Linked DNA regions of Homo sapiens. The protein of the gene in region 1 interacts with the protein of each later gene in a pairwise test. Each region holds a gene or a part of one and is shown on either strand. Other genes may lie near its edges. The genes, in order: RHPN1 and HAP1.

Evidence for each region.
Region 2: the proteins of RHPN1 (region 1) and HAP1 interact in binary tests that used the Homo sapiens proteins (3 or more experiments, as listed by UniProt).

Annotation. Positions count from the first base shown.
Region 1 is NC_000008.11:143,378,679-143,385,025, reverse strand, and holds the end of RHPN1 (rhophilin-1), read right to left. Parts: intron 6,331-6,347; coding exon 6,206-6,330; intron 6,115-6,205; coding exon 5,948-6,114; intron 5,712-5,947; coding exon 5,518-5,711; intron 5,198-5,517; coding exon 5,041-5,197; intron 4,965-5,040; coding exon 4,851-4,964; coding exon of another isoform or gene 4,695-4,850; exon of another isoform or gene 4,438-4,694; coding exon 4,243-4,437; intron 3,759-4,242; coding exon 3,682-3,758; intron 3,455-3,681; coding exon 3,308-3,454; intron 3,220-3,307; coding exon 3,058-3,219; intron 2,591-3,057; coding exon 2,375-2,590; 3' UTR 805-2,374; downstream 1-804. UniProt on the Homo sapiens protein: Has no enzymatic activity. May serve as a target for Rho, and interact with some cytoskeletal component upon Rho binding or relay a Rho signal to other molecules.
Region 2 is NC_000017.11:41,722,140-41,724,643, forward strand, and holds the end of HAP1 (huntingtin-associated protein 1), read right to left. Parts: 3' UTR 501-2,504; downstream 1-500. UniProt on the Homo sapiens protein: Originally identified as neuronal protein that specifically associates with HTT/huntingtin and the binding is enhanced by an expanded polyglutamine repeat within HTT possibly affecting HAP1 interaction properties.

The DNA.
Region 1 (6,347 bases):
TCCCGTGGGTGGGCTGGACAGGGCAGTCCCCTGTTCAGCAGGCCCCTGCGCCGGGCAGGCAGCCACCAGCTACTGCAGGGATGAGGATGGGATGGGGCGCGGTCCCTTCCCGCAGCCCAGGGGCTGTCTGGCAGGACTCCCACAGATGCCGGAGGGGCATGGTCCAAGTCTGAGGGGCTGGGCTGGTAGGCATCCGCTTTCTCTTCTGGAGAGCAGCCCCAAGTGGAAGGTGGGGAGGGGGACCCCCCTCCTGCCCAGCCCTGCCTTGACTAGAACTCTGGACCCCAGATCCCAGGACCTCCGCCCCCCTCCCCCTGGCTGGCAGCAGGACCTCAGGGCCCCCCACATCGCCACAGCACCCCTGTGCACCAGGCTTCCTCCACTTCACAGGACGGAGGCGGTGACGGGAGCCAGGTCCCAGCCACGTGTGGCTTCAGCTGTGAGGCCCCCCCTCTGTGGCAGAGGGACACGACGGCGGGGGGGGGGGCAGCAGGGGAGGAGATGGCCTGGGGCAGAGGGCAGGGCCAGGAGCACAGGCCCAGGCTTGGTGGCAGCCAGGGGAGAGGCATGTGTGGGCAGGGGTGGGACGGGTTGGGCGCACCCCAGGGGTCTGCGGTGGGGAGAGGCGTGCTCTCTGGGCAAAAGCCCCCTCCCCCAGGCTATGGTGGCCTGGCGCCCACCATGCAGGAGGCAGGTGGCAGCTCTGTCCCCAGCTTGGGTCTCGACAGGCCACAGGAGGTGGGGAGTCCCTGCACTTCCCAGACAGGGCTGCCACCCTGTCATCCCCAGTTAGTGCCTACTGGCCTCCTTGATCCACAGTTTTATTAACCAAATTAACACGTGCTGGGGAGACCTGCGTGACCTTGGCCCATTCTGCTGAGACAGGGATTTTCCCACAAGGGCAAGTGGGGGACCTGGACCCCCACCCCGGCTCAGGCAGGTTGGGGAGCCCTGCCCTCCTGCCCAGGAAGATCGCGCCGCGGCGCCTGCGTCTCTGGGACCCCAAACACCCTACTTGCACCCCCATTTTCTTGGCTGAAGCACGAGGGAGGTGGCAGCGCAGGGCCCTGGACCCTGGAACCAGAGCCTGGGATGCAGGGCAGGCTGCTCTCACCTGCGGACCCTCGGAAGGGACTGGACAAGAGGGCAGGGGTCTCGCAGAGCTGGGGGCCGCCTTTCTACCCGGGGTCTTTGCCTCAGCCCTCCCAAGGCGCACCTGCCCGTGCCGCCTCCCAGGGCTGCTGAGCGGGTGGCGGCTGCCCCCTAGTGGCTGCAGGGAATGACTCCCGCTGGCCCTGTCTCTTCCGGAACCTGCCAGGCCCTGGGGCCCTCGGTGGGGGCCTCCGCTCCGGCTCCGGCTCCGTGGCTCCTCTTGGGTGCAGCCCTGACTCTGCAGCCCTTCCCACCCTCTCCTCTTGGTGCCCAAGTCCTGAGCCCACTGCTGTAGGGGTCCTGGAGGTGGTGTTCTTGCCGACGGCCTTTGGGGGCCATTGTCCACCCAGTACACGGAGGCCTGGAGGCAGCCCTCACTTCCCCTGCTTGAGACACTGACAGCTCACGGCCTGTGGAGGCCAGCAGGAGCGGCCCAAGCAGGCTGGGGAGGGCTGGGGGCCCATGCAGGCCCCAGGCTCAGAGAGAAGTGACACGCCCAGGAGCTGGAGGGTGGCACCCATGCTCAGAGCAGGACAGCAAGGCGGGCAGCAGGGCTGGCAGGCTTAGGGCCACCATGAGACCTGGGCCACGACACCAGGGACTCCTGGGCAAACGGGACACTTGCTGGGTTGACCAGCACAGAGCCCATGATGACCAGCACAGGGCGCAGAGGTGGGGAGTCCCTTGCTCTGTGCACAGACAGGACAGCAGGAAGTATTTTGGGGGAAGGCCATGTCTGGGACCCGGCCTAGAGGTCTGCGGGTGCTGTGGGTGTGTCTGGCTGCTGCATGGTGGAGGGGCAGTGAGCGAAGGGGTGCCCAGCAGGAATCACTGGGCACCAGGCAGAAACTTGGCTGGAGGCAGGACTGAGACCTCAGGGTCTGTGCCCAGGGCAGCAGCAGGGTGGACAGAGCCCGGGGGTACAGATGGGATGGCTGTGAGGAGCACCCTGTAAGGAGCCCTCAGGGTGGGGCAGCCCCAGGAAGCTGACCTCAGACCGACAGAGGGACTGGCATCCTTCTGTGTGTGGGTGAAGAGGCCACAGCTCCCATCACTGGGCTCAGACAGGTCTGACCAGTCTTTAATGGGCAGGCAGGTGCCCGAGGCAGCCTCCAGCATGAGGCGGGACAGGCATTGCCCGGAGGTCCTCTGGGTGGGGAGGGCATGCTCGGTGCTTGCTGCCAGCTGGAGCCAGGGCTGAGGCGTGCAGGGATCCTGGCCCTCACGGCCACCCTGGGTGCTTCAAGGATGAGGGCGGAGCTGGCTTCACTGGGGCACAGGGCTGGGGGCAGCCTCCAGTCTTGCCCTGCTGGGCCTTTCGGCTCCAGTTGAGGAGGGGCCGGGGACTGGCCCACGTGGATGCCGGGGTCTTGCAACCATGCTCCCTCTGGCTCCTTAGAAGCCCCCTGGGGCCCAGCAGGACGGGCCGGCGGTCCCCCTGCAGCAGGGACAGAGACAGACTGTGGTCAGCCACTGCTGGCCTGTCCCCACCTGCAGCCAGTCTGGGAGGGGTGAGAACCACCTGGGAGGGGCTGGCACGTCGGGGGCTTGTTTGGGGGCTCCCATCAGGGTGGCCACATAGCAGGGGCCCATGGGTTTCACCCAACCCTGGGTCAGCCATGCTGGGTAGAGAAAACCTCTGGGATGGAGCGCCTGGCCCAGAAGCCTCCAGTCTGAGGATACAGAGGCCCAGTGAGGGGTGGGCTGCAGCATCCTCGGGGTCAGGGCAAGAGCTGCCAGATGGAGGCCACAGCACAGGTGGCCCCTGCCCAGGAGGCGGCCCAGGGAGGGTTACCTGCAGCCCCACCTCCCCTTCCCAATGTTGCTCAAGCATCCAAGGCAGGCCCAGGGCCAGGGTGGTGACAGCAAGCTGGGGACCGCCCCTCTGGGGCCCCAGGGGCTCACCAAGCTGGGCAGTCTAGAGCTGGGCAGCAGCGACACCACCTGCAGGCTGGCGCCCGCCTCTCCCGCAGCCTTCAGCTCCGTCACCACCTCCGCGTGTCTCCACCACCTGCATGGCTGCCCATTCACTGACACAATGTAGTCGCCCTCCTTCAGGCCAGCCGCCTGTGGGGAGACTTGGACGGTGAGGTGGGGACAGGACACCCTGGCTGGCACCAAGGACTCAGCCTCAGGGGGCCGGCGGGGCCCTTACCGCGGCCTGGCTCCCTGGAATGACGGCAGCGATGAGGACAGGCGAGTCTCCCCGAAGCGTGAGGCCAAAGCCGCCCTCTCCTCGGGTCAGGTGGACGGGCCCCACCAGCCGCCACCGGTTCTTGGCTGAGAACACAGACAGGGGCCCCTGGCAGGGGCTCAGAGGTCAGAGGCCCAGCTGGGCCACACACTGAGGAGACCCCGCCTGACTAGCACATCCATCCAACCTGTGCACCGAGGGACACCGTGGGGTTCCACAAGGTGGGTGGGGAGGGCTGGACCACCATCAATGGCCTGTCTGAGGCCATGTGCTGGTCAGAGCCACACAGCCCAAGCTGCCCATGCTGGGCGGTGCCTGGGGACGGGTGTGCTCACCAGCCGATGGAAGATGTCAGGCCCCTTCCCCTGGGACAGGCGTGGCATCCTGGCCTCTGGCTTCTGGTGGGTCTTAGCTGAGAGGGTGTAAGAGCAGAGCTAAGCTGGGAGACTGTGGAGACCTGCCTCGGGGATTTTCCAGGGCGCAGGGCATGACCCTGAGTGCACACAGGCCCCGCTTCTGACCTCCAGGCCTGGCCACTCTGCAATGGTGGGAGGAGCTGCCCCAGGTGTGCCCTGAACACACGGCCCCCTCTGCCCCAAGTGGCTCCCAAAATCCCTCCCTGAAGTCCCAGCCATGCCTGTCCTGGGTCTGTGGGCTTCCCCTCAGGGTAGGAGGCCAGTGCAGGGAGGGAGGTGCTGAGGAGCGTGGTCATCCCCCAGGCCCCTGAAGGGCCCAGCAGCTCTGTGGGTCCCTGTGATCGTGGCCTGGAAAGTGCTACTGCTGTTTAATTCATCGTGGTGACTGCATCTTTAATGCAATCAGCCTCCCTTTCTCCAGGACGAAGGCCCCCACCCTGGCCAGGGATGCAGCCACCCAGACAGGCCCTGGCTGCTCACGCTGGATGTCCGGGGCCTCGGCAGCCTCACAGAAGTCATCCTCACGGTCGAGCTCCGCATACTTGGCCAGTGAGCGCTGCAGCGTCTGGGAGATCACAGCCCGAAGCAGGTCCACCTCGCGCAGGACGCGGCACAGGGCGTGCAGCCGCAGCGCCTCCTCCTGCCCCAGGATGGCACGCTTCAGGTGTGCCTTGCCTGCACGCGGGGCACTGGGATGTCACACACCATGTGGGCCCGTGGGCCCTGGGACGTGGCAGAAGGAGTGGGCAACGCCAGGGCTGTGGGGCTCATCACAGCCACTTTCGTTGGGGGTGCGCGCCACGGGGGTGAGGAGCTGGCTGTGCAGGAGGGCTCTGCCACGTGCAAAGCAGGGGCCAGGGATGAGCTGCTCCCAGTGGTCTCCCACCTGCTCAGAGGCTGCCCAGCACTCCTGGGGCCCCTGCGCTGGGCCGTCACCCATCAGGCACAGGCCATCCAGGGATAGGTAGGTGGCCCAACTCGTCAGCACGGGGACAGCAGGTGGCAAACAGCATGAGGGTGGTGGGGGACACCCTGCCACCGTTGGTGACCATCTGAGCCCCAGGGCACTCCACCCATGGGCGCCTTACCAAGCTGCCTGCGCTCCTCCAGCTCCTGCGGCAGCACAGGGCCTCGGGGCTTAGAGGAGGTGGGGGGCTGCAGGAAGACCTGCTCGTGCGTGGGGAGCTCTCCCTCGGTCGCTGCTGGGGGACAGAGAGGCTGTGAGCCCTGCGCGGGGGGGCCTTGGCAGTACCATGGGCAAGTGTGGTGGGCACTCACGGGAGCCGTCGCAGAGGGCCATGGCTACGTGGTAGTGGGCCAGGGAGCGGAAGTACTCGGCCTTGACATGCACCAGGGCAGTCCAGGAGACAGGCACGTAGTCGTGGACGGGTGGCTGGGCCATGGTCCGGTGCACTAGCCTGTACTCGGCTGCCACCTGCCGGTGGATGTGGCAGGCACGCGAGGGCCTCCCACTCTCCAGGTGGTGCCTGCTTCTCCCTACCCAGCCTCCACCTGCTCCGACCACCATCCCAGCAGCCTCCCTGGCACCTCAGTTCCTGCTGCTTTGTGCCATCCCCTGGAGGCAGAGGCTCGGGTCCCCAGGTTCCTGACCAGCCCCCCCAGGGAGCAGGACAACAGCTGGCTCGGGGCTGACACACAAGGAAGGAGGTGGGAGAGCTCACGCATGCCTGGACCTGGGCTCTGACCCCAGCTCGGCCCCACCCCCTGCATCCTGACACGGGTGCCCGAGCTCACCTGGGCGGCCTCCTGCGCCAGGCGCAGCTGGGCCAGGCAGTCTTGGGGGGCCATGGAGGCAGGTGGTGAGAGGCCCTCAAACACACATTCCTGGGCCTGGGCCATCATGAGCTGCTCCAGTGCGCAGAGGGACGCAGCGCTCATGTCTGGGCTCGGCGCATGGGAGAAGTTCTCCCTCAGGAGGCTGAAGGCCCCTGCGGAGGGAGGGGTGCTCACACAGGCAGGGCCCTGTACCTGCCCATCTCTGCCCCATGCAGCACTCAGGGCGGCCAGCTAGGGATGCTCCTGGGACACATATGGACCTGATGTGCTCACTCCCCCTACCTGAGGGACTGATGTCCTAACCACTCCCCAGCTCCTGCCCTGCAAAAGGGGCTCTGCAACACCCTGGCACCGCGCCGTGCCCCACCGCGGCCCGGGCCGCCCTCACCAGCGGCCCTCTGGAAGGCCTCCATAGCGCGGCGGGCACCCTCGGTGCAGGAGCGGTCCTGGCGCGCCCCAATCTGCGTGTGGAGGGCACCGATGTTGAAGAGAACGCTGCCCTTCTCGAAGGCCAGGGCACGCTGCTGGGCCGGGACCCCAGTAAGCGAGTCGTACCTGCAGTGTTGGGTCAGGCTGGGTGGAGTTCCCACGGTTCCCGCAGCTGGGCCTCCCCTCCCCAGGGTGCCTCCGCCCGCAGAGCCCCTACCAGTGGAAGAAGAGCCCGAGGCTCCTGGCAGGGGTGAGGAAGCGCGCATCCAGGAAGCACAGCTGGTTGTAATAGGCTGTGAGCAGCTCCAGGCCCGACTCATTCCGGCTGGGGGTCCGCATGGCCTGCAGGGCAGGAGCCA
Region 2 (2,504 bases), on another chromosome or scaffold:
AGTGCTAGGATTACAGGCATGAGCCACTGCACCCAGCCTCCCCCAAATATTTTCTATCTGTGGTTAGTTGACTCCACGGATGCAGAGCCTGAGGATACGGAGGGCGACTATACTTGTTCCTAAACCCTGTTCCAGGTCTGCTCTGGGGACTTCACCCTAAGACAGTGGGTGACTCTCTCCCATCCTATCTTTCACAGCCAGGCCACTGAGTCAGTCTCTGGGGTGAAAGGATCAGGGAAGCATGAGCTCAAATCCCAGCTCCACACTAGCCATGATCTGCTGGTGAGGGCATCACTTAACCTACTCTGGCCTGAGTTTCTCCATCCAACAGACACTTATGACATCACCCACCGCCCTCTAGGAGCTGCTGCTATGATTAAACGGCGTATTTAATAGGAGTCCTCGGCACATACTTCAATATTAGCATCCACCCTTTCTCTACAACTTCGCCCTGCCAAGTGCACACACACACTCCCTAGAGAGACAGCTGGAGGCTGGGCCAGGAGGGTATAGATCCTTTATTTCCTGCACCACACGCACACAGGCTGACAAGCAATAGGAGATTGAGAGGTGCTGTGTGAAGGGGGGCAGGTACCTGCAGGAGGCCTCAGTCCCAGCCCCCAGCTATTGAGGAACAAAGGTGTGGGAAAGGGCAGAACATGGAAGAGGAAGCCAGGGGCAGGGAGGGGGGGATCAAGACAGAGGGGAGAGGGGCTGGGCCACGGATGGGAGCCTGGACACCCCCAGGCCACTGGCAGAAGAGGGAGGGAGGGAGAGGAGACACACCACTGGGCAGAGGGGCCCTCACCCACCCACACACAGAGACACTTGTGGTTACAAACAGTAGGTAGGGACTGAGAAGAAAGGATGAAGAACAGGGAAGACAGCCAGGTCCCTCAAGTCAACAAGAACCAGGGTGGCTACCATTAGCATGGGCATCAAGGGGTGAGGGGCACATTGTTGGGAAGGCGCTCACAACTCCCTGCCGGTGGAAGCTGGGCCCTGTTCCCTGCTCAGGGCTGAGTCTGGTAGCCAGTGGGCCTCTCCCGGGCTTCTCCTGCCCCCTGGGCTGCCATGTGGCCCAGACCTGGCAGCCACAGCTTTTGCACCAGCTGCAGAGCGAGGGCCGGGGTTCCTACCGCCTGTCCCTGAAGACGTTGGAAAAGCCTCCAACATGTGGGAAAGGGCAGAACATGGAAGAGGAAGCCAGGGGCAGGGAGGGGTCCCCAAGCTCCAGCCCAGGTTCATGAACACAGAGGGTGGGCTGGTGACAGACACAGGGTCCCATTTCAGAGGATGGGAAGGAGGGTCTGCGGGTGTGGGGCTTGGCCAGGCAGCAGAAGGAGGGGCCTCAAGCTGTCTGTGGGGCCTCTGCAGGCTGCTGGGGAACAGCAAAGCCTGGAAGAGAAGCAGGTGGATGTGAACTGGGGCATTGATGACCACAGGCCTGGCCTGGGCGGTGGGCAGGGGTCTGATCAACTGTATCAGAAGGACACGGAAAGTCGCCATTGATAATTATGCAGGTTGCCCCCTGCATGCGCCATAAAGGTCATGGTTCAGTTTATAACCTGCACAAGCTTACATGACACGCCTGCTGAAGCCAGTGCTATTCCACCCGGCAGTGACCAAAGGGCCATGAGAATGGGGACAGGCTGGGACGGGTACCAGGACAGCACTAGAGGGGAGGGATGGGCCAGTGAAGGTGCTACAGCACAGGAGTAGAGAGGACGGGCTCAGATCTACCCCGGCTGTGTGGCCCCAAACAAGTGTCCTTAGCTCTCTGAGCCTCACCCTCCTCACCTAACCAATGGGGACACATCACCTGCCACGGAATGAGGCTGATGGGAGCTGATGCACGTGCAATGGCTGCTGTGCATGAGTGTCACAAGGTCATCTTTCATGTCCTGCGGCTCCTTAAAGAGGCAGGGCTCACATGGCCTGCACTCGGAAGGTGCAGCTCCCAGACTTTGGGGTTTCTGGCTGGGGAGAGGAGACCCTGTTCCACCCCACAACCCTGCAGGAGGCCCTAGCCCACCTTCTGACACCCAGGGGACTGTTCCAACTGTGGCCCTTGCTGGTGAAGGCCTTTGTCCCCATAGCCTGGGCAGTCCCAGAAGGCCTCTCTTCCTCCCAGGCCGTGGGAGGGTGGCTGGCCCTGTCCTCCAGCCTGGGTCAGCCCCCGGGCTGCTCCACCATCCCACCCACCGCCCCCCGTGTTTGTTTTGACTGCTGCTGCCACTGCTGCAGAGTTGGAGAGCCTGGGGGATAGAGGAGGCAGGGGTTGGGGGCAGGGGAAGCAAGCGGGCAGAGATGGGAAGCTGAGGCGCAGTGTGGGGGCACAGTCCCAGCCCTAACCCCCAGCCCAGCCCCCAGGAGAAAAGTGGATGGAGATCTGGAATCCTAAGCAAATGCCACATAAATGAGCACTGACACTACGGTTCCCACTGAAGGGGATCAGAGGTGTCTATGCAAATGATATGCAAAGTCCATGCAAATAAGCACAG